7 linked regions of the Homo sapiens genome follow. The protein of the gene in region 2 purifies or fractionates together with the protein of the main gene of each other region. This does not show direct contact. Each region holds a gene or a part of one and is shown on either strand. Other genes may lie near its edges. The genes, in order: ARF4, TRIM55, ATP2A2, CPVL, HACD3, NUP93 and PFKFB4.

What was found.
Region 1: the proteins of TRIM55 (region 2) and ARF4 purify together in Homo sapiens (affinity purification with mass spectrometry, with the first as the bait; one large-scale study listed by BioGRID). This does not show direct contact.
Region 3: the proteins of TRIM55 (region 2) and ATP2A2 purify together in Homo sapiens (affinity purification with mass spectrometry, with the first as the bait; one large-scale study listed by BioGRID). This does not show direct contact.
Region 4: the proteins of TRIM55 (region 2) and CPVL purify together in Homo sapiens (affinity purification with mass spectrometry, with the first as the bait; one large-scale study listed by BioGRID). This does not show direct contact.
Region 5: the proteins of TRIM55 (region 2) and HACD3 purify together in Homo sapiens (affinity purification with mass spectrometry, with the first as the bait; one large-scale study listed by BioGRID). This does not show direct contact.
Region 6: the proteins of TRIM55 (region 2) and NUP93 purify together in Homo sapiens (affinity purification with mass spectrometry, with the first as the bait; one large-scale study listed by BioGRID). This does not show direct contact.
Region 7: the proteins of TRIM55 (region 2) and PFKFB4 purify together in Homo sapiens (affinity purification with mass spectrometry, with the first as the bait; one large-scale study listed by BioGRID). This does not show direct contact.

The regions. Positions count from the first base shown.
Region 1 is NC_000003.12:57,579,640-57,584,332, reverse strand, and holds part of ARF4 (ADP-ribosylation factor 4), read left to right. Parts: intron 1-325; coding exon 326-435; intron 436-4,693.
Region 2 is NC_000008.11:66,132,668-66,137,128, forward strand, and holds part of TRIM55 (tripartite motif-containing protein 55), read left to right. Parts: intron 1-2,322; coding exon 2,323-2,488; intron 2,489-4,427; coding exon 4,428-4,461. UniProt on the Homo sapiens protein: E3 ubiquitin ligase that plays an important role in regulating cardiac development and contractility, muscle growth, metabolism, and fiber-type differentiation.
Region 3 is NC_000012.12:110,346,767-110,350,132, reverse strand, and holds part of ATP2A2 (sarcoplasmic/endoplasmic reticulum calcium ATPase 2), read right to left. Parts: 3' UTR 2,741-3,366; coding exon of another isoform or gene 2,721-2,740; 3' UTR 1-2,720.
Region 4 is NC_000007.14:29,059,112-29,063,804, reverse strand, and holds part of CPVL (probable serine carboxypeptidase CPVL isoform b precursor), read left to right. Parts: intron 1-4,693. UniProt on the Homo sapiens protein: May be involved in the digestion of phagocytosed particles in the lysosome, participation in an inflammatory protease cascade, and trimming of peptides for antigen presentation.
Region 5 is NC_000015.10:65,571,445-65,576,137, forward strand, and holds part of HACD3 (very-long-chain (3R)-3-hydroxyacyl-CoA dehydratase 3), read left to right. Parts: intron 1-103; coding exon 104-210; intron 211-790; coding exon 791-922; intron 923-4,693. UniProt on the Homo sapiens protein: Catalyzes the third of the four reactions of the long-chain fatty acids elongation cycle. This endoplasmic reticulum-bound enzymatic process, allows the addition of two carbons to the chain of long- and very long-chain fatty acids/VLCFAs per cycle.
Region 6 is NC_000016.10:56,834,629-56,838,128, forward strand, and holds part of NUP93 (nuclear pore complex protein Nup93), read left to right. Parts: intron 1-105; coding exon 106-150; intron 151-1,972; coding exon 1,973-2,089; intron 2,090-2,979; coding exon 2,980-3,098; intron 3,099-3,500. UniProt on the Homo sapiens protein: Plays a role in the nuclear pore complex (NPC) assembly and/or maintenance. May anchor nucleoporins, but not NUP153 and TPR, to the NPC. During renal development, regulates podocyte migration and proliferation through SMAD4 signaling.
Region 7 is NC_000003.12:48,535,745-48,540,437, reverse strand, and holds part of PFKFB4 (6-phosphofructo-2-kinase/fructose-2,6-bisphosphatase 4), read left to right. Parts: intron 1-666; coding exon 667-741; intron 742-1,127; coding exon 1,128-1,184; intron 1,185-1,818; coding exon 1,819-1,940; intron 1,941-3,974; coding exon 3,975-4,182; intron 4,183-4,693. UniProt on the Homo sapiens protein: Synthesis and degradation of fructose 2,6-bisphosphate.

The sequences.
Region 1 (4,693 bases), on a different chromosome or scaffold from region 2:
ATATACAGTCTAGTTTTGAGATTGTCTTTTTGTTAAGCATGTTGATTATCTTAGAAGTACTTTTAAAACAGGCCGGGTGTGGTGGCTCATGCCTGTAATCCCAGCACTTTGGGAGGCCGAGGCGGGTGGATTGCTTGAGCCCAGGAGTTCAAGACCAGCCTGCATAACATAATGAGGCCTTGTCTCTGTTGATGTTTAGGCTTAAATATATTTTTTAAAAATAAAAAGAAGTACTTTAAAAACACTATTCTAAGAAAATTCCACAATAAAAGGTTTTATTTTCTTAATGACGCTGCACAGCGGTCATTTTTGTTTTTCTTTGTAGGTTTTAATGTGGAAACAGTAGAATATAAGAACATTTGTTTCACAGTATGGGATGTTGGTGGTCAAGATAGAATTAGGCCTCTCTGGAAGCATTACTTCCAGAATACCCAGGTAAGGGATACTGTATGTTTTTATAACTTTTCTTTGTGGGTTTCATGCTCTAAAGTTTTTATTAGTATCTAGTATTTACTTGGATATTGGTGTTTACTATGAGTTGGCATTTGTCTTATCACCACTTCCACATTCTTCAGTGGACTCTCACTTAGGCCTTGAAGGCTAACTTATATAGGGTGGAAGAGTTGTAAAGCAATTGCGGTAAGTGTTTGGAAGATGGGGTGGGTGCTGGTGTAGTTCACAAGAATGAATTAGGTCTCTTATCCGTAGTTCTTTGCTTTCCATCTTAGTTTAGAAAGTAAGGTCTGTATAAACTGTCATTGTAGTTTCTGATGAATGTAAGACAATTGATAGTCCTTTGTTTAGCCCAGTTACTTGTTTACTTTATTAAATACAGTAAAGTCAGTTCGCTGCATTGATTTGTAAGATATTTTTATATTGCCACATAGTATGTATATATAATACTGGCATGGAAGAGACTTTAGTGATCCTGTAGAACAGGAGTTCTCAAATTTGGGGGTGGCACGTAAGAATCACATGGGGACCTTTGAAAATCCCAAGACCTGGATCATCCCCTAGATGACTTGAATCAGAATATCAGGGGATATAATCCAGGTACAGTAGTGTTTCTTAAACTTTAATATGCATATCAATCACCTGGGTATTTGTTAAAAATACACATTGAGTCCATAGGTCCTAGCTAAGGCCTGAGATTCTGTATTTCTAGCAAGTTCTCGGGTTGTGCTGATACTACTGGTCTGGTATCTTACAGCACAGCACTATTGACATTTTGGGCTGGGTTATTCTTTGTTGTTGGGTATGGGGAGGGCTCTCTATGCATTGTAGGTTGTTTAGTGGCATCCTTGTCCTCTACCCACTAGATGGCAATAGCAGCTGCCCTCAAGTAGCAGCCAAAAATCTCTCCACACCTGCAAAATATCCCCTGGGGGCAAAATTGCTCCCTGCTGAGAACCACTGTTCTAATCTAACTCTCTTACATATGAGGAAACTGAAACTTGGAATGACTTACCCAAGATGGGAGAGTTTGTTCTCACTCTACCTTTGTTTAACCTGGTCCCACCTCGATTGTGTTTTCTACCACCCAAGGAATTTCTTGTCAGTTTTTTTTTATTACTTAATAATTTTTTTTAAGTGTGATATCACTGCCACTTTATATTTTTAAGACTTGCAATGTCATCTTGTTATCAGCCTCTTAAAACATTGCATACAAGTGGGGTTTATTGCCATCAGGTGGCAGTGAATACCCTAGGTGAGTGGCTGGGACAACCAGGTTTACATAGTATGTCATATTAAATAAGTGGTATACTTTTTTATTTAAAAACGAGAATGTTTAGGCCAGGCACGGTGGCTCATGCCTGTGATCCCAGCACTTTGGGAGGCTGAGGCGGGCGGATCACGAGGTCAGGAGTTCAAGACCAGCCTGACCAACACAGTGAAACCCCGTCTTTACTAAAAATACAAAAATTAGCCGGGCGTGGTGGCGCGCACCTGTGATCCCAGCTACTCAGGAGGCTGAGGCAGGAGAATCACTTGAACCCGGGAGGTGGAGGTTGTGATGAGCCGAGATCACACCATTGCACTCCAGCATGGGTGACAAAGCGAGACTCTGTCTCAAAAAAAAAAAAATAGTAGAATGTTTATGGTCATCAATATAGCTGTGACTAGAAAAGATACTTGATACAGAGGCACATGCTTTAAAAAGCTTCCTTATGGAAAATGTTAAATACAAGGTGAACATTCCTTATCCGAAATTCTTGGGACCAGAAACCACTGTTTCTGATCTCAGAATTTTGGGGGTTTTGGAATATTTGCATTGTACCCAGTTGAGCATTCTAAATCCAGAAATCCAAAATCCGATATACTCCAGGGAGTTTTTTCTTTGTTATGTTGGTGCTCGGGAAGTTTTGGATTTGGATTTTTGGATTAAGGAAACTCAATCTGTACACCTACAAATAGAATAGCATAATAAACTCACATGTATGTATTATGCAGCTTCAGTTACTAGGATATAAGCAGTGCTGTGTTGTTTCATACTCATCTCTAATGTGCTCTACCCTCTAGACAGTTTGTTTATTTTTTTTGAGATGGAGTTCTCGTCCTGTCACCCAGGCTATGGCGCAATCTTGGCTCACTGCAACCTCTGCCTCCTGGGTTCAAGCGATTCTCCTGCCTCAGCCTCCCAAGTAGCTGGGACTTCAGGCATGCGCCACCACACCTGGCTAATTTTGTATTTTTAGTAGAGACGGGGTTTCACCATGTTAGCCAGGCTGGTCTCGATCTCCTGACCTCATGTGATCCACCTGCCTGGGCTTCCCAAAGTGCTGGGATTACAGGCATGAGCTACTGCGCTTGGCCAATATATTTTGAAAGAGTTAGATATGAAGTAAAACCTTGCTAATCCTTAAGCCTAATAATTCTTGACCAAGGGTAACCCTGGGTTTATCCCTAGATTTGTTTAGAATGCTTTGTAATTTACTTTGCATTCTTAATTTGAAATTAGACCCAATTCTGGCCTCTTTGGACCATCTGAGAATTAAAAGTCTAAGTACTGCTTCCTAGGGAGTTCATGCTAGCTGGGGAAAGCTTTATGTGTTACCTGATAGAATCAAAGCTAAGCTCTTAGCTTGCATTCCCAGCATTACTGATCAGTTCTCCTAGCTATAAAATTTAAAAGAAACTATAGCTTTAACCATGTTTCTAACTTATACTAACAAACCATGGCACAGTGTGTAGTAAATTCCTCTTATAATTCCAACTAATTTGCCATTGTAAATAAGTAAATATTTGGCTTTTCAAATAATTTCATAGCAGCTGGGCTTATCTGTAGAATCCTAGCTTTTCTTCACTCTTGATTCTAGGCTGTTCCAGGAAGAAAATAATTAGGGATTAATACCTAAAATAATTCTCCTTCTCAATAATGTCACTTTGGGACTGATAGCATTATTTGCATTTTAAAACAAAGGCTGGGTGCAGTGGCTTATGCCTGTACTCTCAGCACTTTGGGAGGCTGAGGTGGGAGGATCGCTTGAGCTCAGGAGTTTGAGGCCAGCCTGGGGAACATAGTGAGACCCTGTCTTTACATTTAAAAAAAAAAAAAAAGAATAAAAATGGGAAGTTAGCAGTCAAAATAAAATTAGGTCCCTTTTAGGGGCATTACCTCTTGTAAAGGGTAGGTTTCAGGACCGGGTGCTATGGCTTATGCCTGAAACACCAACACTTTGGGAGGCCATGATACGAGGATCACTTGAGGCCAGTCCAGGCAACAGAGTGAAACCCTGTCTCTACAAAAAAAAATTAAAAAAAAATTACCTGGGCATGGTGGCATACTCCTGTAGTCCCAGCTACTTGAGAGGCTGAGGTGGGAGGATCACCTGAGCACAGGAGTTGGAGGCTGAAGTGAGCTACAGTTGCGCCTCTGTACTCCAGCCTGGGGGACAAAAGGAGACCTTGCCTCTTTTTTGAAAAAAAGAAGAAACAAAAAAATGGAAGGTTTGGTTCTAAAAAGGAGTAGCTTTTGAAATATGGAAAGGAGGAGACATATTTGCTAAATAAATGCCCATGATAAGCCAAGAACAATGATCTTTTATATCTCTGTGATTGCATTTAATCTTTAACAAGCTTATGAAGTTAGTATTTTTATTTTATTTAGACGAGGCATAGTCAAGGATTAGATAATATATATAACAAGTAGTATAAGATTTGAATTTGAGTCTGTCTTCCCACCACACTATATTGGCTCCCAAAGCATCAAACATTATTTTTTGTTTTTGAGATGGGGTCTCACTCTGTTACCCAGGCTAGAGTGCAGTGGCATGATCATGGCTCACTGTAGCTTCAGTCAACCTCCTGGGCTCATGTGATCCTCCCTTCTCAGCTTCCTAAGTAGCTAGGACTATAGACATGTGCCACCATGCCCTACTAAAATTTTAATTTTTTTCGTAGAGACAGGGTCTTACTCTGCCCAGGGTGATCTTGAACTCCTGACTTCATGTGATCCTCCCACCCCAGCCTCCCAAAGTGGTGGGATTAGAGGTGCCATGCCAGCCAAAAGTTTTCTCAAAGGATAGGATATTTAAAGTGATGGTTTTCCAGGTGGTATAGATGCAGTGTAAAATAAAATTTAAAAATTAAGTTATGGTTTCCAACAGAGATAAAGGAAATGGACTTACAATTTGCTAAAACAAAGGAAATTGTCATTTAATGGATGTAAAATAAGTGTTAGATGCTCCTGGAG
Region 2 (4,461 bases):
CACCTCATAAACATGTATTTATGTCATTCTTTTACATGCCAAATCGGTCCCAAGTCAGTTACATGTTTGAAGTTGTACAGAGGTTTCATTATATGCTCATCTATGAGTAAGTGGTGCCTCTGGGGCTGGGCTACAACCTAAATAAGAAAAACCCAATGAGGAATATGGGAAATTGTTCTCAGTGTATACAGCACCATGAAAAAAATAAATAAATTGAATCACAAACAAAACTAAATGTAGAGCCTTATGGCTGTTTTCACATTTTCAATATTTGCATATACTGCATAGACCTGTGCTCTATGACGCAATCTCTGGTCACAGCTGTTGATATCAGAACAGCATGTGGGACCCAAGCTGCCCACTCTTGCTTAGCCCACATTAATAATAAGGTGGAGATACCTACGAGGGAAGGGTTTAGAGGGGAAGAAGCCTTTGACCAGGCAGAGACCAACTTGCCAGTCCCAACCCCAGAGGGCACTGTCATTTATTAAAGGAGTAATCAGGATGTGGTCTGGTCTCTTCCTCTGCCACTCAGGAGTGCCAGGTGATCCCAGGCTTTCCCCATATTTGCCATGCCTTCTCCAGCTGGGTGGTGTTACACTAGAGCACAGGGAATACTGTCCATTTAATAGGTCAAATTCCCTTTCATTGTCTCACTCATTTGTGCAACAAATATTTATGGAGCCACTGCCTCTGTGCAAGGCACTGTTCCGAGTACTGGAGATGCAGCAAAAAAAAAAAAAGACTCATCATGGCCCCTGCCCTTATGGAGCTGATATTCTAGTGGAGGAAACAGACAGACCTGAGAGGAGGATAATTTTCTCAATTGTGGAGTTGACTTCCTTATTTGAGTTCCAAATAATGTGGTCAAATCAGAAGGTCATAGACTTCATGGAAAGCATATTGCTGCAAGACCAGACAGAAATTCCTTTTGCAACAGTCAGATTCTAAAATTTTGAAACTGGAAGTCCGTGCAATTTTCTTACAAGACCCAGGGCTTCTCCCAATGTTTAGCCTAATCTCAAGTAATTGACGTCCACCTAGCAACTTATAAAGGAACATTAGCGTCTTACAGAGGCACATCAGCACGTTCTCTGCCTTTCTCTGAGTTCTGGGTCTGCAGCTACAAGATACCACACATCAAAAAAGATGGGTTTCAAACACTTGTATTCATGATTTACAGTAGGAAGTGCATTTTACATTGTGACCACTTACATATATGGACGGATATATATACACACACATATGTATATACACACATACACAAACACACACACACACACAAACACACATATACTTTTGTTTCAGTCACATATATACACACGTACACCTGAAACAAAAGTTTCGAACAGCAATACTTATTTTTACTACATGTAATTCACAGTATTTGCTATTCCATTCTATTTTTATTTTAACAATGCAGATCATAGCTCCCTAAATTGATTTCATGGCTCATAAAAACCTGTAGTTTTTAAAAATTGGATCTGTATAGCAACAAAACAAAATGTAGTCCCAAATCTAAGATGTTGCTAAATAACTATGTGTTTGGAAATTTGAAGAAAGCTTCTGGATTTGGATTTGAATTTTTTGAATACTTCTGAAAACTATTAGCAGCCTCAGTCATTAGATAGGATATATCAGAATTCCTGGGGTTTATATAAGGAGGTACACCCACACTTGCGTCTCATACACATTTGCATCCAACCAGTACTTGAATTAATAATCAGAAGATTTTGGTTCCATGTGAGCCACACCTATCCTCATTTCTTCAGGTGAAAAGGGTCTTTCCTGGGGCCAGAGGCTGGAGGGGGGCGATCTAGCTACTCCTAAAAGCTGGTGCAAACTCGACTTTTAGTTCATCAACAATTTCCTGTTCTTGGTCCATAATGGGAAAGTGTCCCTTGAGAAACTTGTGAGCATGTAGACACAGTGCTGGACCACGTTCCTGATGGCTCACCAGGGTTCGATATTCTACTTTCAGGAATTTCACTACCAGATTCTGAAACCTTAAATAACTTAAAATTGGCCATGTGGAAATACACCATGGAAATGGGCAAATGGTACAAATCAGGATCTCCACGTCTCTGTCCCTACCCCAAGCAGGTTGTTAGAGATTTGCCAGCACTCCCCTGCTACACCTGCAGGGAAGCTGAATTTGGTGGGCTCTGAGCATGTGAAAGGGCCCCTGGGGGTCTTCTGGAATAGAATTGCTGGGCATACAGGGAAGAGAAGGAATTTGCAAGGCAGAGCAACATCAGCTCTGCCTTGATGAGATTGCCCCAGTGAGAGCTGATGGACATTTATCTGCCTACCTCCTCCCAGGCCAGAAAAGAAATCCGACCAGCCCATGTGCGAGGAACATGAAGAGGAGCGCATCAACATCTACTGTCTGAACTGCGAAGTACCCACCTGCTCTCTGTGCAAGGTGTTTGGTGCACACAAAGACTGCCAGGTGGCTCCCCTCACTCATGTGTTCCAGAGACAGAAGGTAACAGAGCTGCTCCCTCCCTCCCGCAACCCCTCCCCATCCCCACACCTTAGGGCCTTCCTGGGGCCAGTGTGAGTGGCTCCCTGCGGTGGAGGAGGAAGCCCAAGCCACGCAGGGCCATGGGACACTGGAGGGCACACAAGGTCTGCAGGAAGACATGTGCACAGTTGTGCACGAGGCACACACCAAATTCCCTGGACGGTGGGGGACCAGGCGAGACAGGGCAGGGGTGCCCAGGTTCAGGAAGTGGTGCAGAACGGCACGATCCCTGTTTTTGTGCCCTTTGGAGGTTGCTGATGATGAGCAATGTTAGGGGACCCAGCAAAAGCTCAAACTGCTCCAGCTTATGTGAAGTTTAGACTACAGATAAGAAAAGGACAGCTTTTTACCCTAGTCACAGAATACTTTCCTTCATCCACCCATGAAAGATTTCTTTGGCCCTCCTCAATGCCTTTTATCCCGCACTCTTAGTGAGGGAGGGTTACACTGATGACATGCAGTTACAGAACAGCTTTAAAACACAGACTTGTGCTGGCCCTCCTGTCACCAGGGCCAGTTGCCTAAAAACCCCTCTGAGTGTGGTGTCTCCCCCTGACCCCAGGGCCTCAGCCATGGCCCCCTAATTCTGAGCAGACAGAAAGACAGTGTCTCCCTCTACACATTACCAACCTGCCAACCTGGTTTCATTCATGAGCAGGTCAGAATTTATCCATCTGGTACAGATAAAAGTGGAGTTGGGTACTCCAATAGGTGCAGCCACTCCAGGCACCGAGAACTTGAGCAGTTCCACTACTCAGTTTCTTTCATTTAGAATCATCAGTTCCACATTTGATCAGTGTTTTACTGTGAAGATCAGTGCTGAAATCAAATTTGGAAGCAAAACTCTTGGGCAACACCAATTACAGCTAGTGGCCACTAAGTCCTAAAGAAACAGATTTTGCAAATTATCCACAACATTTGTTTATTTTTGAATCCAGTTACAATTTATTCCCCCTTCTCTTCTGCCCACCTCCCCCAAAGCATAGCATAATAGAACTGGATGGTAGCTGTTTCACACTCCTTCCTTCAGAGCCTGGAGACTCATGTGAGATGGACAGAAGAACAGACTGGTGGGACCCTCACCCTTGCTCCTGTTTGGCCAAAGCAGCTTCACCTCCATATTAGCTTTCACTTGAAGAAGGTTCTGCAGCTTTAAAATATTTTATAATCACTGTTCTGGTCCAATCTTCTCCTTCTAAATGTGAGAAAATTAGGGTCAAAATTGAATATATGTTTTGCCCAACATCACAGAGAAGTTGGGGGTAGAGTTGGACCAAGCGCATGGGTCTCCCAAGTGCCCCTCCAGTGCTCCTGGTGGCTCCATCAGCCAGTCTTGGGAAGGGGGTAAATAGGAACAATAGAATCTCTTCCTAAGTCAAAAGAGCAAAGGAATTTAAAAGTTGACATTTCTCCCCTAGAACTAGTTCTTTGTTTCAGTGTGAAGTTTGTAATGACTTAGTCTAATGTGTGAGTGTTTGTGTCTGTATACACTATATTCTTATGCCCATAATAAGTATTTGTTGAATAAATGAGTATTTACTATACACATTTCCCAAGTAAAATTGACCCTTAGTTCCACTAGGCAAATAATTCCATTTGGGTCCCTGAAGTCACATATTGGTCTCCATGCTATTTATAAACAATACTTAGAATTCTTTAGCTTGAACATGTTGATCTTAATATTAAGACTGATGAAAACTGTGAAACCTTTCCCTGCACAAATGGATTCATACACAAAGGTTTGCTTGCAATATCAGAAGGTCCACAGGCCTCCCTGTTAGTCCTTAGGGGTTGCATGGATCCTAAATTAAGAACCTGTAAAGACAATATTATGACCAATTCACAGTCGGGGTGGCTAGGAAACCCCTAAGATATTGGGTTCATGTTTTCTCTTCATTAGTCTGAGCTCAGTGATGGCATCGCCATCCTCGTGG
Region 3 (3,366 bases), on a different chromosome or scaffold from region 2:
TGAGGTGCCGCCCACACAGGGTAGCATCTAGAAGCACTGGCTCAGTGACACAGACTCCTCGTGTCGTCTGGCTACAGAATAAAGGCTCTGGAGGAAAACCCCATGAGGCAGACACAATCGTTGCAGCTGTGAAAGCAGCGAGACAGGCAAGAGGACAAGGTCTTGGTTAGTGGTGCAGAGGGTGAGGTTGATGGAGAAGTGAGCAGCCAGTAGCAGCACAGCCTTCCTGTCCCTGCCCTGTGGGCACCCGGCTTCTGGCTGCTCGCCTGCCTTGCCTAGCCCTGGAGAGGAAACTCCTCCGCATCATTCTCCTCAGTAAAGGAGGGTGAAGCCTACCCTTCTTGCTAACTGCAGCGGGTGTTTGGACAATTTGGTGGTTACAGTCACAGGGCAACTGCTGGCTCTGCTCACAGGCACTGCAGACGTGGTATGCTCTGGCCCTGGACAGTGGCTAGATGCTTGGTAGACACTGAGCTAATCTTGTGGTCTCAGGTCTTAGGTCTGCCCACCTCAGTCAGGGCTGAAGCTCCAGTCCGAGGGGATGTGGGAGCAGCTGTTGTGAGGGAAGTCGGCCAGATGCCCTGCTTGCCTGGGAGCTCACTGAGCTCAAGGGACAGCTTCCTCCAGAATGGATCATCTGCATTCTGCAGAGTGGTGTCCCAGTTAGGGTATGTATGATTGTTGGTCTTCTGGGCAAAGCTCAGAGAGGCCAAGGGAGGCACGGGGTGGCAACAAGCGACACTGATGGCTGGGCCTTCAGCCACCTGCCCATCAGGAAAGAATGTGGAAGTAAGTTTCAGGCAAGAGCTGCCTGACAGCAGGCACATTGCGGGGCTGGGCAGCTGCTGCCTCACTGTTAGGTGAGGGCCTGAGGCCAGGGATGTGCCAAGACCACGGTGCTGGACCTGGTCTTTATGGGTTGACCTGAGGAGGAGATGCTGAAGTGTTTTCACCCAGCAAAGCCTTCAGTGAAATGGAGCAAGTGGCCCTGCTCAAAACAGCAGTGGGCCTAACCCACTCCCAGCTGTCTGGACCAAGGGAAGTGGGTCCCTCCATGGGCTCCTCTGTGGGCTGGAGGGGTCTGAAGCTGAGAAACCATGAAGCTAACTAGGGGCTGTGCGACAGCAGGCCACACACTACTCAACTTTTTTTGTAAAGGCCACTAAGTCAAGGAACTGAGTCAGGAAAAGCTGAGTTTTGTTTGCACGGAATAGCAATAGTGCAGCACTCAAGTCAGTTTGCAGCCCAGAGATGCACTCCTTGCATTTGGCCCATTCAACCCATTTCTTGTTACACCTCATGATGCTCAAACTGGCAAAATTTACCCCCTGCCCCAAATGTTCCCTGCTGGGCAAAGCAGCCTCCCTTCCCGAGAGCCACAGCTGCCTGCGAGCAGCCTTGGAGGCTTCACAGTAAGGCTGATTTTTTTTTGACAGGGCCTCACTCTGTTGCCCAGGCTGGTTTGAGTACCTGGGCTCAAGCAATCCTTCTGCTGTGGCCTCCAAAGGGCTGAGACTTACTTACAGGCATGAGCCACCACACCCAACCACGGACTGTGCTTTTAAGAGTCGGTCTCCAGGTTCCACCTCCATCCCTTGAACGTGGGCCCTCTGAACTCAGCAGCACCTTGTCCTGCTTGATGCCTCCTAACCCTCCCCAAACTCCAACCATCTGCATTACATCTACTGGCCATCCCAGTAACCAGAGCCTAAGTACATTTTGAAGAATATAGTCGAGGCCTCACACCCTGGCTAAGGAGTAAGCTGGTTTTTGGGCTGTGCAGAGCCACGTCCTACTAACTGTGCTTTAACATCCCCTGCAGAGCTAAGTCTTAGCCACCAAGGACAAGACCAAGCAAGGGGGGGTGGGGGAGTGGGGAAGTGGCCTATTTAAGACGAACCTATCGATACCCAGAGTTCACTGGTTCAGTTACTTGCTTTCACTAGTTTTTAGCTTTTTAATAAATAAGTAGCAATGTTCTGGGATGACTCCTGGCAGCTGCGAACCCTCATTTTAGCAATAGTCTGCACAGCTCCTTCAGCCTGTTGGTCTGGCTGAAATGCCTCTCTCCCCACTCCGGCTTTTGTCTGGCTTGGGCCCTCCTGGTCATCTTGTCCTAGGCAGCCTGTGGAGGTCTATGAAAGCCACACCTCCAGCCAGCTGATGCTGCGCCCGAGTCACATGGCAGGCGCCACAGGCAACCCCGGTGCTCACAGGGCATCAGGGAGCACAGCAGCATCTGCCATGGAGGCGGCTTATAAGTTAGTGACATACAGTTATCTCACTTGGTGGCAGTCACCTTTAGGCTAAAGCATCCAAATCCCAGGAAGAAAATACTCACGTTAGTTGATGGATGTTGGAAGGCATTGGAGGAAAACACCACAGTTAGGACTGTTAATGACTTACACACTGTTGGTGAGACTCATCTCGAACATGCGCAAACATTGATCGTAGTAACGGTGGTGGTGGTTAGTGCCACATTCAAATAAAAATAGTTCTATACAATATGTTCATTTGGTCATGTGCTATTTACAGATTTTACAAAACACACACATACACACACATACACACTTGCCCTTATGTTCTCTATACCAGGCCAGCAGAAACTTGCATAAAATGTACATCACAGATGACAATTAGTGCCTGTACATTAAGAATACAATTCCTATGACTACCTACACAGCAGAGCAGGAGCCTTCTTCCCCTCAAGCAGAGTACAACTAAAGTTCTGAGCTAAGAACTGGAGAGAAAGTTGGACATGTCTGTTAGTCCCAGGTAAGCCACTTACGAGTTAAAGACAAGACAGTTATTTTTCTCTGTCCATTTAAAATGTTTTATTTTTTTAAAACTAGATGACGTGCCACTGAAATAGGCAATGTTGGCAAAACAATGTCTGTTACAATAAAATACATTAGACATTTAAATAAATAACCTTAAAAACTATGTGAAGGGACATAAACCCAGTCGATTGAATCTGGAACAATGTTTTCTGCACAAGCGAGTACAGGCATACCTCTCGTTAAAACTGATGTAAACAGAACGAACCATCACAATCCTAAAGAAGAAGCCAAGCGGGGCGGGGGTAAGGTGGGGAGAGGTGGGGTGGGGTGGGGTGAACGGAGGCCAAAGTGGGTGAGGGAAGTAGCAAACCAAAACAATACTGACTGAGGTAGCAAGACTCTGCTCAGTGCAGAAAAATTGGCTTATGAATAAAAATTAGACTGTGATATCAAATTAAATCCGGATCATCATGCAAAAGACACAATACATGCTATTTAGTTTTAGAAAAAAAACCACACACATTCATTTCCTAAAATCTGCTGCCAATTAATTTGCTGACAATGTCTGCTGGCTCAACTATTTTTT
Region 4 (4,693 bases), on a different chromosome or scaffold from region 2:
AGGTCAAGATTTTGAGACCAGCCTGGCCAACATGGTGAAACCTTCTCTCTACTAAAAAATACAAAAACTAGCTGGACATGGTGGCGGGTGCCTGTAATCCCAGCTACTTGGGAGGTTGAGGCGTGAGAATCACTTGAACCCGGGAGGCAGAGGTTGCAGTGAGCCAAGATCGCAACATTGCACTCCAGCCTGGGCAACAGAGCAAAAACTCTGTCTCAAAAAAATAAAAATAAAATAAAATAATTTAACCACTTTCCCCTGATTATTCCTTAAAATGAAATTCCCTTTGGCACACACCACTTCTCATCCTTTCTTGAGAAAGGAAGAGTTGCAGAGCCAAAAAGATGACTGGCCGTGTGTAAGAGCCAGATTTCTCTTATGTGTTGCTTTGTTACATGAATCCCAATGACGTCAGGGATAAATGAAATCAACTGGTTATTCTGAAAATGCATTTTGCCTAATGGTTGTATTCATTCACTTTACCCAATCACAGTGTTTTGAGTCTCTCCTTAGGGTGTGAGGTTGAAATGATGAATGAGAAAGGGTCCCTGTTTGGAAGTAGGTCAAGTCAAGCCATTGTGCTGTCTGGTTGAAATGCTCTGCCTTTGCTGCCAGTGGAGGTGCCAGTGGAGAGTGAGGTCACAGAAAAGGAGCCCTGGAGGTTCAGGCAAAGAAGACATGGGCCCTGGAACTCCCACTGGGAAGGAGGACACCAAGAGCAAATGACATGGGGAAAGTCAGCCTGTGTATTATTTCTTTCCTGGTACTACGCTCTCAGCTCCTCCTCTGGTCCTCCAGTGCTGTTAGCCTTTGCCCAAGGGATCGTCTCTAGGGCAACTCCGAAGGATGCCTGTACTGATGACTGGGGAGACCACCACTGAGTGATCCACTTCCTCCCTATATCCTGTTTTGAATGAACAAAAAACAGGGCAGTCGGCAGCCCATAGGATTTTTGTATGAATTAGAATAAAGGCATCCTCTCCTCAAGATACTTTATTTCGATCTTTCAGAAATTGTCCTGATATACTGCCTTAGTTAAAACCAGACTCTTTACTGCCATTTGCTGGCATGCTGAATATTCATTTCTACAATGTGTATATTAGGAATGGTGTGTCTTAGGATTGTTCAGTGCACAATCTGCAATACTATCCAGGCAGTCCCTGGCCAATGCACCCTAACTAGACTGTGGTTTAGAATATGCCAGACCTAGGAGGCCCATTTCTGGGTCCTGCTTCTAGTACAGTGTTGGACACGTAACCATTGTTGAAAATAGTTTAAGACCAATTATATGCCAAGTCTACAAACCCATTATAAACCTGCAAAACTTGATGAAATACTTACTTTCTTGGAAAGAAAGAGTCTAACTAGGTCAGGCCAGCATTTCAGCCATCCTTGTGTTTGGTTTTCTTGGGGACATGTAGTGGCCCTTAGTGCTTGCTGCTTCAAGACTTCTCAGAGGACCTCCAGAAGGCACTGCTGTTTGTCCTCTCCTCTGAGCTCTCAGAACGCGTTGTCTTTACCCCCATAGGTGTACATGGCACACTCTAACGTGCAGACTCTCAGTCTGACACCCATACCACCACCAGCCTGGAGCAGATGTCAGGAATGAATGAATGATTAGTGCTGTATCAAAAATATATCTATAAACCTGTCCATAATCCATTAGGTGCTTATTATCCACAAATTTATTAAACCAAAAAGAGGTTAGCGTTCATGTCTTAAAGATGATGTTCTGTAATGTGATGTTAAGGAATGGAACGAGTGAATTTTTTTGAGAGGAGAGCAGATAAGTTTGATATGTGTTATTTGTGCCCTTGGGAGATATATTTTCTCACTGTACACACTTTTTTTTTTTTTTTTTGAGATAGAGTTTTGCTCTTGTTGCCCAGCTGTAGTGCAATGGTGCGACTGGCTCACTGCAACCTCCACCTCCTGGGTTCAAGCAATTCTCCTGCCTCAGCCTCTCAAGTAGCTGGGATTATAGGCATGTGCCACCATGCCCAGCTAATTTTGTATTTTTAATAGAGATGAGTTTTCTCCGTGTTGGTCAGATTGGTCTCAAACTTCTGACCTCAGGTGATCCGCCCACCTCGGCCTCCCAAAGTGCTAGGATTGCAGGCATGAACCACCGCACCTGGCCTCACTGTACAAATTTAACTAGAATATGATTCCTTTCTCAGCCATGTGAGGGTAAGGTGGGACAAACAGCTTACCTGATGACATAAACTCTCCTTATGTTTTGACTGATAAAGGAGAATATATTGATTAGAGGTGATCCTGCATTTTGATATTTAAACTTCTCTGTCCCTCTTGCCCATGTATCCTAAACTTACCACTATGAATTCCAATAAAATCAAAATCCAGTATTTTCTAAACTTTTCTTTTCTTTTTTGAGACAGAGTTTCACTCTGTTGCTCAGGCTGGAATGCAGTGGCACGATCTCGGCTCACTGCAACCTCCACATCCCGGGTTCAAGTGATTCTCCTGCCTCAGCCTCCTGAGTAGCTGAGATTACAGGCACATGCCACCATGCCTGGCTAATTTTTTTTCCGTATTTTTAGTAGAGACAGGGTTTCACCATGTTGCCCAGGCTGATTTCAAACTCCTGACCTCAGGTGATCCACCCGCCTCGGCCTCCCAAAGTGCTGGGATTACAGGTGTGAGCCACCGTGTCTGGCATAAACTTTTCAACTCTGAATCGGTTGCCAGAAAAAGAAAAGAGTTTAGTGGTATAGATAAACCATATTTCCATAAAGAAACAGAACAAAATATGCCACCAAAAAGTGGCTGCTGCTAAAACAGACAGCATGTTCACTCACGCAGCTGGCAAAGCGCTTGGGATAGTGATTATCTTTGGCTTGTCTGTTAATGATGTTGAACCTCAGTGTTCAGAACGGGAATCAGAACAACCTAGGTTGGCTTAAAACGTTAGTACCATTAAAGTCATATTTATGTAAGACTCGGTACTAATTTGTCATAGAAAATAGCATGCCTGTTTCTATTCATAGGAACTAGAGGTCTTTTTCCAGTACTGGGTTCATTTTGGCCAATGTGGAGCATCTCTGATGGTTGAAGGAAGACCTTCCTGGGTTTCTGGAATTACGTTTTCATGTAGTTTCTGTATAAAAATTAGCTTCTCTGTAAACTACGTTAGTTTCTATGTAAGCTACGTGAAAACATAATCCTTTTCTTACAGTGATATACAGGAGATGCATACTCAAAAGTCATTTTCCTTTCAGTAATTTCAGATGTTTGGGTGGTAAATTGAAATATCATATTGGCAGTTTCAAAAATAACTAGAAAGAGAAACAATCTGTTGGGCTATTTGAATTCTTTATGACTGAATGAAGTCAAAACATGATCAGGACTTTTAGGAGTTAGCTGGTTAATAGAGTATGGTGGTTATGAACATGTTCTTAAGTTGCATATCTTGAGTTTGAGCTCTGGTTACACCAGTCACTGGCTATGCTCCTTTGGGAGAGGAAACTTAAACTCTCTGCGCTTTGGCTTCCTTGTCTATAAAACAGGAATAAAAACAGTATTTATGTGTGAGTTTCTGTGAGGTTTAAATGAGATTATATATGTAAACACACTTAGAAGAGTGCCTGATGGTTAGAAGGTGCTTATTTATATATATATAAGCTATTACCAAAAATGTTCAACAAATTTTGTGAAAGTCTTTAAGATCTTGCTACATTCAAAAGTTATACAAGAAACCCTGGAAAACACAAAAATAAAAAAGAATGGACAGGCTTCCAGTTTCCATTCCAGTGTGTAAGAAGCTTAGAAGTCTCCACTCCATTGTAACAACAGTAAAAAGCCAAACAAACTGAAATATAATCAAGAACTCTTTTTAGATTTGTTGAAACTGAGGTCACAGGGCAAATTGCTGCCCTCCAAAATTAGAGAGAGAGATGAATATAGGGAGTCAAAACTTAACAGGAGCAAACCTGTAAGTAGAACCCTCCATGGAAACAAATGGTGAGGAAGGGAAACCTGAACAGTAATTGGTAAATTACTAGAGGCTCCATAGGGACAAGTCTGAGAGTTTAAAACACCATGGGTGGGGAGAGGACTCAGCCAAAGGTCACTTGTAAATGACCTTTATTATGTTGAGGGACTTTTCTTGTATACCCAGACTGTTGAGTGTTTTTATCAAGAAAGGATGTTGGATTTTGTTGAATACTTTTTGTGTCAATTGAGATGATCATGTGGTTTTGTCTTTCAGTCTGTGATGTGTCACTTTGATTAACGTACCTATGTTAAACCAGTCTTGCATGCTAAGGGTAAATCCCACTTGATCATGCTGTAGAATCTTTTTGGTGTATTGTTGAATTTGGATTGCTAATATTTTATCGATAATTTTTGCATGAATGTCAGAGTTACAGCCTTGCAGTTTTCTTTTTTCTTATGATATCTTTGCCTGGCTTAGGAATCAAGATAATACTTGCCAAAAAATCTATGATTAATATGCTAAGGATTTTAATGGAAAAAGTAGACAACCTGCAAGAACAGATGGATATTGAAAATAGAGATATGGAGATTATAAGAATCAAAAGGAACTGTTAGAGATCAAAAACACTGTAACAGAGATAAAGAATGTCTTTGGTGGGCTCACTAGTAGACTGGACACAGCTGAGCTAAGAGTAGCATGAGGATGTAATAAATAAAAGCTTCCAAAACTGAAAAGTAA
Region 5 (4,693 bases), on a different chromosome or scaffold from region 2:
CATGTGTGGCTGAGAAATAGAATTCTTCTATTTAAATGATATTCTAAGGTTGCATTCGGAACCTGAAGTGGCTTTTCACATTGGAATCATTTATTTTCAATAGGTACTCTTTCTACATGCTGACGTGCATTGACATGGATTGGAAGGTGCTCACATGGCTTCGTTACACTCTGTGGATTCCCTTATATCCACTGGGATGTTTGGCGGAAGGTACTCTCAGGGACTCTTAGCTTTCATAGCTTAGCTCCAGGGGGTACCCAGAGGCTGAGAGACCAGTCCTTTCTTCCCCGGCCTTAGTCCGATAAATGGAAATGTTGGATTTTTCAGGGATTTCTTTCCATGGGCTTCCTTCCATAATACTCCTGGTACCCAGACTGTTCGAGAAAAGTAGCTCATTTTGTAACATTGGAAAGCCAGGTGGTTATGTCCTGCATGCTTCCCATTTGTATGATGCTTTTAGTATTCCAAAGGGGGTTCTTACTGATGACTTTATTTTATTCTGACAAACATCTCATACATAAGTCAGCTAGGGATTTTCCTCTCCATTTTATAGAATAGAAGAAGCCCACTACCATGACTTCCTCATCTGTCTCTCTGTTGACAGGTTGGAGGCTGATCTCTTAGAAAAGTAGGGGAAAAAAAGGAGAGGCATGAGCTTTCTGTACAAAGGGAGGAGAAAGCCTTTCCAGCACACCCAGAACTGAAACTTTAGAGTACTAGGACTGGAAGTTCCTGTCATTAAATGTGACTGTTTCATTTGCTTCTAACAAGTTCTTGTTTCTGTTTTCAGCTGTCTCAGTGATTCAGTCCATTCCAATATTCAATGAGACCGGACGATTCAGTTTCACATTGCCATATCCAGTGAAAATCAAAGTTAGATTTTCCTTTTTTCTTCAGATTTATCTTATAATGATATTTTTAGGTAAGTATTGATTCTTTAATACAGACTTTTTCTTGTCACTTCTTAGACAGTAGAATTAAATCATTCAGAAATGTAAAAGTCCATATGAGAATTCTTTTGGGACAGAATTAGAGAATGATTACTTTGCAAAAACAGACCCACTAGGGGAATATGCTATGGTAAGGAAATATTTCTTTTCTAAATCTCCAGCAGTTAAATTATGTTCTTTAAGTGCTCTTGGTGATTGGGAATATACCATAAGATATTTCTTGTTTAAAACAATGTAAGGGGACAGGCATGGTGGCTCACGCTTGTAATCCCAGCACTTTGGGAGGCTGAGGTGGGCACATCACAAGGTCAGGAGTTCGAGACCAGCCTGATCAACGTGGTGAAACCCTGTCTCTACTAAAAATACAAAAATTAGTTGGGTGTGGTGGCGGGTGCCTGTAATCTCAGCTACTCAGGAGGCTGAGGCAGGAGAATCGCTTGAACCCGGGAGGCAGAGGTTGCAGTGACCTGAGATTGCAGCATTGCACTCCACCCTGGGCGACAGAGCGGGACTTTGTCTCAAAAAAAAAAAAAAAATAAATAAATAAATAAAAATTAAAAAAAAAAAAGTAAGGAGCCTTTTAAAATAGACTAAGAAGCTCCCACTTTTACTAATTTCAGTAGCATATTCCTCATCCAGAGTTTATAGAGGTGATAAGACAACCAGCAGCAAGGAAGGAAGAAGGGAATAAAGGCCTCTGAGCAGCCAAGGGTTGTCATAAAGCCTTCCACCTCACAATAGGAAAGTCCCCTGCTCCTCATGGAAAACCTGCTGACCTATTAATTTATATAAAATCATAAATTCCTGCCTTTATAAACTAACAGAAGGGAAAAAGAAAGAAACCTAAATTATTACAAATATGACAAATTTAAAAGGCTTCCTAACTATAAGGATTTTTTTTTGTTGTTGTTGTTGTTAAATTCTTATTAGAGGCCAGGTATGGTGGTTCATGCCTGTAATCCCAGCACTTTGGGAGGCTGAGGTGGGTAGATCACTTGAGGACAGAAGTTTGAGACCAACCTGGCCAACATGGCAAAACCCTGTCTCTACTAAAAGTACAAAAATTGGCTGGGCTTGGTGGCGCATGCCTGTAATTCCAGCTACTTGGGAGGCTGAGGCAGGAGAATCGCTTGAACCCAGGAGGCAGAGGTTACAATGAACCGAGATTGTGCCACTGCACTCCAGCCTGTGTGACAGAGCAAGACTCTGTCTCAAAAAAAAAAAAAATTTATTAGTAATCAGTATTTGGTAATTTCTAAATGCAACTATACATGATTCTACCCATATTATCTATACTATACTCTATACATAGATGTGAAAATACATACATTCTTATGTGTAGGTTAAATACAATTTGAGAAAAATAATTTTTTCCTTTTAAGAGCAAACTAATACGTATCGATTTTAGTATGACAACTAAGAACATAAAAACAGAATGAAAGGAATTTTGTCATTAAATATATTTGAGAGGAGAAAACACTGATTATCATACATAGAACTTTACATGTTTAAGGATAAGACAAGCTCCTAACTATAAGGACTCTTTAAAGTTCTGATACATTTTAGTGGTAATTTATATATTTCTCCTTGCTTTATTTCACAAAAGACTTAAGGTGGCCCTAAATAAATATAACTGTCCAGTCTCCTAGCCACAGAAGGATGCAACAATAGTATATTAGTTCTCTATTGCTGTGTAACAAATGACCCCCAAAACTTAGCAGCTGAAAACAATAAATAGTTATTATCTCACATAGTTCCTGAAGGTCAGGAAGCAGCCTGGCTGGGTGGTACTGGCTCAGGGTCTCATGAGGTTTCAGTTAGGCTGTCAGCTGGGGCTGCAGTTTCTGTAGACTTGACTGGGGCTGGAGGATCTGCTCCAAGCTCACTCTTGTGGCTGTTGACAGGAAGCTTCAGTTTCTTGCCATAGCCCGTCTCCATATGGCTACTCATGGCATGGCTTCCCCCAAAGCAATTGGTTAGAGAGAGAGAGCCCGAAGCCACAGTGCCTAATCTCAGAAGTGACAAATCATCACACAGACCAACCCAGTATAACATGGGAGGGGACTACACAAAGGTATGAAATAACAGGAGATAGAGGTTGTTGGGATCATTGTCACGGCTTGCTACCCCAGACAGTGAGAGGAAGACCACGCAAGGTAAGCCCAGGAAGCCAGAAAGCCCAGTGGTCTTGGTCATTTAGTGTTGCGGGAGGAGAGACTTATACCATAGTATTAGGAGCCCCTTAGTGTGCCAGTGCCTGGCAGATGTACAGTTAAATAGTATACATTGTAGGCCCACGTCATTTGCAAAAGGTTAAAATTTCTTTCTTTTTTTCTGTTTCAGCAAAGGGTATAATCCATTTCAGAAATATTGCCAACCAAAAATATTAAAATGTTTTGCCCTTGAAGAGAGGAACCCTCAGTTCAGAAAATGTACTAATTAAAGACAGCTTTTTACCTTTATTACTGTATAAATTCAGTATAACTAGGCCCCATGAAATGGGCATAAGATAAAGAGGAATAAATATTGGAAAGACATTTAAAATATTTTAGTGAACAGGGTAGAGGGGTAGAAATATTTTAAAGTGCATTGACTTAGTATCTTTTTTTGTGTTGTTTATATTGTACACTCTAATTTGCAAGATTTTATGTTCATATCTACTTTGCTTATAGTGAATATGTAGTTGCTCTTTTCTTATTCTTTAGAATGAAATAAATCCTAATTTCACATTTATAATTTTGAAGCAGTGTAAACAGCCAGTTAACATTTGTATATAGGTCAAAGGACTTTTTAGTTTTTTTTTTTTTTTTTGAGACAGAGTCTTGCTCTGTCACCCAGGCTGGAGTGCAGTGGCACGATCTTGGCTCACTGCAACCTCCACCTCCTGGGTTGAAGCAATTCTCTTGCCTCAGCCTCCGGAGTAGCTGGGATTACAGGCACCTGCCACCATGCCTGGCTGATTTTTGTATTTTCAGTAGAGATGGGGCGTCACAATGTTGGCCAGGCTGGTCTCAAACTCCTGACCTCAGGTGATCCACCCATCTTGGCCTCCCGAAGTGCTGAGATTACGGTCGTGAGCCACCACGCCTGGCCATGTTCTTGAGTAGGCTTGAATTAAAAATTAGGTTGTTTCTGCACTTTAGATTTGTGCATTTCATTGTAAATTTTACTGTAAAAGAAAGAAAGAATATTGAACTATACCTACCTGAAGAATTAGGGGGGTGAGGTGTATTGATATCTGCAACTTAACACTGAAGTGCATAAAAAATGAGATGGCTGGAGGGATAGATGAATAGGGATGTGATATAGCCAATATAGTAAAAAGCAGTAAATCTAGATGTTCCCTGTATAATGATTTAATCTTTTGCGTGTTTGAAAATTTTATAAGAGAAAAAAATGTTTTAAACTCACTGGGAGGCTGGGTGTGGTGGCTTACGCCTGTAATCCCAGTACTTTGGGAGGCCAAGCTGGGCAGATCATTTGAGGTCAGGAGTTTGAGACTAGCCTGACCAACATGGTGAAACCCCACCTCTACTAAAAATACAAAAAATTAGCCAGGCATGGTGGTGGACGCCTGTAATCCCAGCTACTCAGGAGGCTGAGGCAGGAGGATTGCTTGAACCCAGGAGGCGGAGGTTGCAGTGAGCTGAGATTGTGCCACTGCACTCCAGCCTGGGTGACAGAATGAGACCCTGTCGCAATAAATAAATAAATAAACCCACTGGGGAAAAATTGCTTTGTGT
Region 6 (3,500 bases), on a different chromosome or scaffold from region 2:
TTATCCCATTCATCCCATTTGATTCCCCTCTTTTTTCTCTGAAGACTTATGGAATATGTTTATATCTTTGTCCAATAATTTGAGTAAACTTTTTTCCTTCCACAGTTCGATATGATTCTTGGGAAACTAGAGAATGACGGAAGTAGAAAGGTGAGTTAAATGCATCCTTAGAGAAATGTTCGTTAGCCATTGGGGATTTATAAATATCAAAAAATACACTTAGATTTTAAGATTCAAGGTACTAAAGATGCAAATCTGAACAGAGTTGCTTAATTTAAAAAATGGAATGAAAATTATGGGCCCAAATGATGACCTTGGTTTTACACACACTTATATCTCCTTAAAATATGTTAATTTGTGATTACATAGCTTTTTTATTATGTTCAGAATATTCATTTGTTCATGCCTGTCATTTTTTGAGCTGAGAATGCTATTATACATTTCTGCCATTCTTGGCTCAGAAAACATGCAAGGAAAAGAAATTGATTACTGCACCCATTCTCCCAAGATGGGAAAGTTAGACATGCACTTGACCTCCTTCAAAATGCAGTTTCCAAGGGCTTTGAACTCCACAGTGACCCTGGAAATACTTCTGGAAGCTTGAGGGATTTCAGGACTCACTATGCCCATTGGTTGTCATGGCAGGAGGGTCAGAGATCCTGTTGTCAGAGACCAGTCATGACCCTGAATCTCCCTGTGGCCCTTGGAAAGTCACTTGTCCCTCAGGGGCTGAGTTTTCTCGTTTGTAAAAATGAGTGATTTGGACCCAGCAATCTGTAGATGAGCTCACACTGCTCACACCATCTACCTCAGAAGAAAGGCAAGTGACAGTGCTGATGACAGTGGCCTTGCTTATTGGGCAGTGACAATCAACAGGCATTGTGCTGAGTGCTTTGCATAGTTTCTTCTTTAACAGGCTGCACTGGGGCCAGGAGGCTCCTACTGTATGTGAGTTGACAGAGCTAGAAACATAGATAAGACCTTATCCTCTGCTACCTCCCAAGTGGCAGGGCAAGTCACCTCAACCTGGTCCAGCCACCTTGACCTGGTCTAGCCCTGAGAGTCCAGCGCTAGTGGAGAAGCAGAATGGCCAGGCAGAGATGTTATGCACTTGCCTTCATTCTCCCAGGGTGCCTAAGGCCTCTCTCATGCTCTCCTGACCATTTAGTTGCTGTTGAGTGGTGATGGTGATTTTTTTTTAAGAAATGTCCTGTTACCAGCCGGGCGCGGTGGCTCACGCCTGTAATCCCAGCACTTTGGGAGGCCGAGGCGGGTGGATCATGAGGTCAGGAGATCGAGACCATCCTGGCTAACACGGTGAAACCCTGTCTCTATTAAAAATACAAAAAAATTAGCCAGGCGTGGTGGTGGGTACCTGTAGTCCCAGGTGCTCGGGAGGCTGAGGCAGGAGAATGGTGTGAACCTGGGAGGCAGAGCTTGCAGTGAGCCGAGATTGCGCCACTGCACTCCAGCCTGGGAGACAGAGCAAGACTCTGTCTCAAAAAAAAAAAAAAAGAAATGTCCTGTTACCACTTGCTGTGTGTTTTTTCAGCACTGAGTTCCTTTTGCCATCTGTCTTAGAAAGCAAATCCAAAATTTTTCAGATATTTTTTCTAAGCCTCCTGATTTTTCTCTCTAGTTCCTACTTATCAGCAAATTTAAAATCATTGATTTCACTGACTCTCTGGGTCATTTTGGAAAATTAGAAAGCACAGATGTCTTATTGCTGACTCCTCTGTGCTTCTAGTAAGTCTGCCCTTTCATGTGTAGTTTCCTTGGTCTCTTTTATAGTTTTAATAGGACTTTATATCTTTAAGAAAGCCAGAGTCTGGCTGATGAAATATATGCGTTGCCCAGGGCAAGCAATTCCACTTGAAGTATTTTTTGGATCCTAATTGCTTCTCTGTGTTTAAAATAATAGCTCTGTGCACCCGTCTCTCTCTTCCTCCCCCTCCATAATTTGTCTTGTCAGCCTGGAGTCATAGATAAGTTTACTAGTGACACAAAGCCTATTATCAACAAAGTTGCTTCTGTGGCAGAAAATAAAGGACTGTTTGAAGAGGCAGCAAAGCTGTATGACCTTGCCAAGGTAAAGTGTGCCCACTTCCTTCTTTTGCACTTCACAGGTCTGCTGGCCTTTTGGCATTAAATGTGCAGCCACTTGGACAGTGTCATTGTTGTAGCACCCTCCCTGCAGAGGCATTTGCTCTAGTGCTTAGACAGTTAATGGTCCAGTCAGGACAGAATTCCCATTTTACAGCATTATTTCTGCCCATAAGATTTTTCTGACCAAACAACATATTGAAAGGATGTCCTGCAGGCATTGAACTGTTGTCTCACTTGGCAGCAGAATTAGCATCCATCACATTTCGATGGTGAAGCCACTGTTGAAAATTACATTATGCTGACCCTGGCAACCACAGACACACTGGGGAACAGTGGTGTTAGAAAATAAGACCACATCAGTGTGCAGGAAGGAGTGAAAGAAAATAAGACCTTAGCTGGGCGTTTTGAGAGGACTAGAATACATGTTTCTACCGAAGAACAAATGATGACTAAGAACATATGATAACTGCTAAGGATTCTATGACCTAAACAAGATTACATTCTCTCCTTTATCAACTGAGAAAAGTAGACAAAAAAACAGCTATAGGCCAAGTGCAGGGGCTCACGCCTGTAATCCCAGCACTTTGGGAGGCCAAGGCAGGCGCATCACTTGAGGCCAGGAGTTCGAGACTAGCCTGGCCAACATGGCAAAACCCCGTCTCTACTAAAAATATAAAAATTAGTCAGGCATAGTGGTGCATGCCTGTAATCCCAGCTGCTCAGGAGGCTGAGGCACGAGAATTGCTTGAACTTGGGAGGCGGTAAAAAATGTCACCCCAGAAAGTTCTCTTTGGTGGGTAGGGGGCATTATATAGTTGTTCCTTTTATTGATTACTTTATTGATTGCTTCCTTAATTTTAAAAACTTGAGCAGAATGCTGACAAGGTACTGGAGCTGATGAACAAACTGCTGAGCCCTGTCGTCCCCCAGATCAGTGCCCCGCAATCCAACAAGGAGAGGCTGAAGAACATGGCACTCTCCATTGCCGAACGGTAAGCCAGGAGCTGGCTCCATGGGACCCTGAGGGTGCCACTGCCAGTGCCAGGCCACCTATGCCCACCCAAATGCATGTTCAGCTTTACTAGGTAACAGCAGACAGCTTTCCAAAGTGGTTCTACTAACTCACCATGCCACCAGCACTGTGTGAGTTCCTTTGTCCCCGCATCAGAACTAGTACTTGGTACTATCAAACTTAACATTTTTGCCAAAGAAATGGGTATGAAAGGGCATCTCAGTATTTTAATCATGCACATAAAGCTTAATTTTAAGCATTATGCTCGCCTAAATACTGTTGTATACTTTCATCAGCCCTCTCAAAGGCATTCAAGACCAAAGCTAGTGATGGTTGGATGGGGGAGATTCTTAGAGGTGTCGTGGCCAGTGTTTCAGACTAC
Region 7 (4,693 bases), on a different chromosome or scaffold from region 2:
TTCTTTATCAGCCAGCTAGTCCTCCCATTTCGTCCCCACCTTTGTCCCTTTTCTTAGCAATGCCACTGCACCCTCTGGAGTGCTCTGGTCCTGCACAGGTGGTGTGCTCTGGTTGGCCAGCACCTGTGTTTGGTTTCCTACATGACTCTGAGTCCGTCACCGTGGATCTCTCTGACAGAATTGTGTTGATGTCTCCATCTCCTGTTGTCTCCTTTTTCTCCTGTCATCTCTTTTTCTCTTTATCCTTCTGTTCCCATTTTACTGGGGTGTCAGGATGGAGTAGAAATAAACATAGGTTCAGTTTACTAGGTTTAACTGGTTTCACTGCAATTCCTGTTGGTCAAACACAAACTGAGTGCCCACTGTGTGCAGAGCAGCACTGAGTAGGTTCTTCTGTGCCACGGGTCTGCTCCCCTGCTGGGAGCACAGGCATCCTCTCCTTCTAACTTCCTTGGGGCATTCTCTCCAAGGAAGGGGAGGGCCAGCCCAGCCGTTGCAAGTCTGGAGGAGACTGGCCAGGCAGGTGGACCTGGCAGCAGCTGGTCCTTATGAGAAATCCAGTCCCCAGAGAGCCTGTGCTGCGGCCCTCACTGCCCACTTCAGGGCCCACTCTGGCCCCTTCCTTCCCCAGGGCCAGAGGCTGAGTTAACCCTAGTTTGGTCCTAGGTTTTTGATGCCACAAACACCACCCGAGAACGGAGAGCGACCATCTTTAATTTTGGAGAACAGAATGGCTACAAGGTGAGGCCTCCTTGGCTCCTCTCCTTGGCGGAACTGTGGCATGTCCCCTGCCCTCCAGGGCTCCTTTCACCGCCTGCTTATGCATGAGGGGCATGGGGCTGGCATGGCTCCTGAGTGTAATTTGGGATGAGAGGGGCTGTCTCCACTTGGGGTTTGCTTTCCAGAGGGAAGGGGGTTTTCGTGGGAGAGTCTAGGAGAGGGCAGCACCTGCTTTAGCTCTGGACTCCTTGACCCCGCCTCCAGCCCTCTGAAGCAGGGTTTCAGGGCCTGGCTGCTTGTCAGCATGGGCCTCAGGGGATGGAGAGCTCCGAGGAGCAAGGCGGGAGGCCCTGAACATGTCCGTGTTCCTCCCTCCCACCACCCCGGCGCTTCTGGTCCTGCCGCAGACCTTTTTTGTCGAGTCCATCTGTGTGGATCCTGAGGTCATAGCTGCCAACATCGTGGTGAGTAGTGCATCTGACCTTGTCAGAAGGTCGTGTGTGACAGGGACATCCCTTTTCAGGTTTTGGCTAACCTTAATTTGATCTTGAACCTTGTGGGGGTAGGGAGGAAGTGTAACTTCAAATGCTGGGTCAGGTATGCCTCGCCCTCTGTGGATCACTGTGGAAGGCTGGGTGGCTGGTGGACATTCACTCACCCCACCTCCGCCTCGTAACCACCTGGACACTAGGAGAGCACCTTCAGCAGGGGTGGAAGGGTGGGTGAGGGGCATGTTTTATATTTCAGAGAAAGAAAGACTCATTCTTTCCTTCCCCTCCCCCAGTTTATCTGAGGAATGGGCATCTGGGTCTGGGAAAATGAGAGTTCAGGGTGGGGAACGGCCTCCAGGCCTCCCCCTGTACCACAAGGATGAGGGACTTCAATCCCTGGACCCTCAGTGATACCCTCTTGGCACTGGTGTGAGAACTCAGACCAGGGAGCTGCTGGACCAGCCCCCACCTCAGCTTCCAGCCTCAGGTTCCCGCACTGGTCTCCGGTGCAACCTCCTCCAGCCCCCTGCCCAGCAGTCTCCTTGGTCTCTGGCCCCGCCTGGCTCCTGACCCTGATATGTCCTTTCTCTGTGCCTGGCTCCGGCAGCAAGTGAAACTGGGCAGCCCTGACTATGTCAACCGCGACAGTGATGAGGCTACGGAGGACTTCATGAGGCGCATTGAGTGCTATGAGAACTCCTACGAGTCGCTAGATGAGGACCTGGATAGGTGAGTCAGGGCAGCGCCAGGCCCTGCAGCTGTGATGGTGGGCGGCAGGGGTCATACTTGGCTGCCTCCTATGGCTCCCCATGGTGGTGGCTGGAGGACCAAAAAGCAGAGATGGTCTGACCTTTCTTGTTTATTTCCTTGGGGCAGAAATGTTTGGTCAGAGGTGACTTGCAGAACACCGGTTACCTCATCCAAAACTCTGCGAGTCAGGATTTTATACTATTCCATCATGAAATCAAGCCGAATTTCTATGCAAGGGGTCTTAAAGCAGGGGTTGGCAAATATTTTCTGTCAAAGATCAGAGAGTAAATATTTTATTTAGACCTTGGAGGATGTACAGTCTCTGTTGCAGGCACTCACTCTGCTGTCACAGTACAAATGAAACATAGATGATATGTAAATCAATGGGCATAGCTGTGTTCCAGTAAAACTTGATAAAAACAGCCCACGGCTGAGTTCGACTGGCTGGCCACAGTTTACCAAATCCTGTCTTACAGAACACATGGGGCAGTGGCTGGGTAAATAATAATGTAGCCCTTGGTGAAGTATTACAGTCATCATTACAACTCGTCATTGTGGAGAGACATGGGAAAATATAATATTGCATTCAGTGAAAAGGCTGGAATACAAACTTGTGCTTAGGTTCTGTAATTCTATAAGATTGTGTAATACGGGCCGGGCAGAGTGGCTTATGCCTGTAATCCTAGCACTTTGGGAGGCTGAGGCGGGAGGATTGCATGAGCCTAGGATTTTGAGACCAGCCTGGGCAACATGGTGAAACCCCGTCTCTACAAAAAATACAAAAATTAGCCTGGTGTGGTGGCGCATGGCTGTAGTCCCAGCTACTCGGGAGGCTGAGGTGGGAGAATCACCTAAGCCCAGGGAGGTCAAGGCTGTAGTGAGTTGCAGTTGCACCACTGCATTCCAGCCTGGGTGACAGAGTGAGACCCTGTCTCAAAAAAAAAAAAAAAAAAAAAAAAAGGATGCACATGAACCAAGAAACACAAGCAACTCTGAGATGAATGCTTTTGGGGTGTGCATAGAGCAGGGTCCTCAGCTGGGTTCTAGAGCCAGCCCAGGCCGGGCCTGAGCTGAATGGCACCTGCCACCTGGGCCTCTCTATGGCTTTCATGGTCCCCCAGCACAGCATTTCTCTTCATGGTTCTGTGATGTGATCCATTTGTCTGGAGCGGCTTCTGTTGGATTTGTCAGTAAGCGTTGCTCTTGCTTTTATTGGTGGTGTCATCGTGACACCCCCAAACCAAGGTCCCAAGGTCCAGACAGTGAGAGCTCAACTGAGAATATCCAGAGGACTCTCAGCCTGAACCAGAGCCCACCCTGCACCCCCACACCCAGAGACTGATCAATGTGCTGTCCAAGCTGCAGTGCCACATAGGTCCAGAGTAGGGAAAGTGGCTGAGCTGGACTTATCGGCTGCCACCACCAGCACCATCCTCCTGTGCTTCCTGTCTCATCCACCAGCTGCCCAGGATGGGGTGTGGCAGCTGCTCAGCACACTTGGATGACCAGGACTGGGCTCTAGTGGGAGGAGGTCACTGGGGAAGGAAAGGCCAGGTCCTTGTACAGCTGACCAGGAAGAGTGAGGGCGTGGAGCGTTTGCCAGCTACTCCCAAGTCAACAACCCTCGGGAAAACTGTCTCTTGGTTCAACTTACAGACAGTGTATTGAGAGTGCGGAGATAGGCCAACAGGGGCCCCAGGGACACATGAGCAGCGGAGAAAGTCATGATGTGGTATGGCGGACCCCCCACTTTGGATGTCACCTTTGGGAAGCATGATGAGTGACGAGCACCTCCCATCTCCCGTCTCCCACAGGGTTTGCCTGTGCGTCACACGCACTGTGTTGCTCCCGCCTCACCCCCATCACTCGCACACCAGCTGACGGTCCTGAGGGTTGTAATCTCTGGTGGTTGGAAGTGCAAGGCCTCGCAGCTAGATTCCGTGGCTAGCCAGATGTGCTCTGTGAGAACCCTGGCCACGCTCACAGGCCTCTTTCTACTTTCTCTCTGGACAGGGACCTGTCCTATATCAAGATCATGGATGTGGGCCAGAGCTACGTGGTGAACCGTGTGGCTGACCACATCCAGAGCCGCATCGTATATTACCTCATGAACATCCACGTGACCCCCCGCTCCATCTACCTCTGCCGGCACGGGGAGAGCGAGCTCAACCTCAAGGGCCGGATTGGCGGGGACCCAGGACTGTCCCCTCGGGGCAGGGAGGTCAGTGCATGTGTCCCTGCGTGCGCACACGGGCCTGCATTTGTACCCTGCGTGGCTGGGTATATGCATGTGTGAGTGCGCTGGGGCTAGGCTCCCATTCTTTTAATGTGCAGTCGAGGTGAATGACCTTCATTCAACCTAGAATCTTCCCATCATGTAGGGAAGGTCATCAAGCAACAGGCAAATGCCTGGATCTCTGGTTTCCATGTGAGCTGTCACTCACTGAGCCCCTTTTGTCAGAGGCATGCCACCCTTAGAGCGACCTGAGTCCATACAGTGTAGCAGATAGCTGTGCCACAGTCCAGGGGAGACCTCAGTGGTCACGTAGCACAGGGCACCTGGTTGTGGGGAGGCAGTGGCCCTGATGAGTCTCAGCTGTAACTGTGCTGCTGTGCTCAGGGTCTGGGAGGGTGCACAGGAACAGCACTTGTGTTCTTGTGTGTCAGCATGTGTGTCATCGACAAGTTAGTTCATGCTTTTTACCAAACCTGTAGTGAGTGTTCAAGGCGAG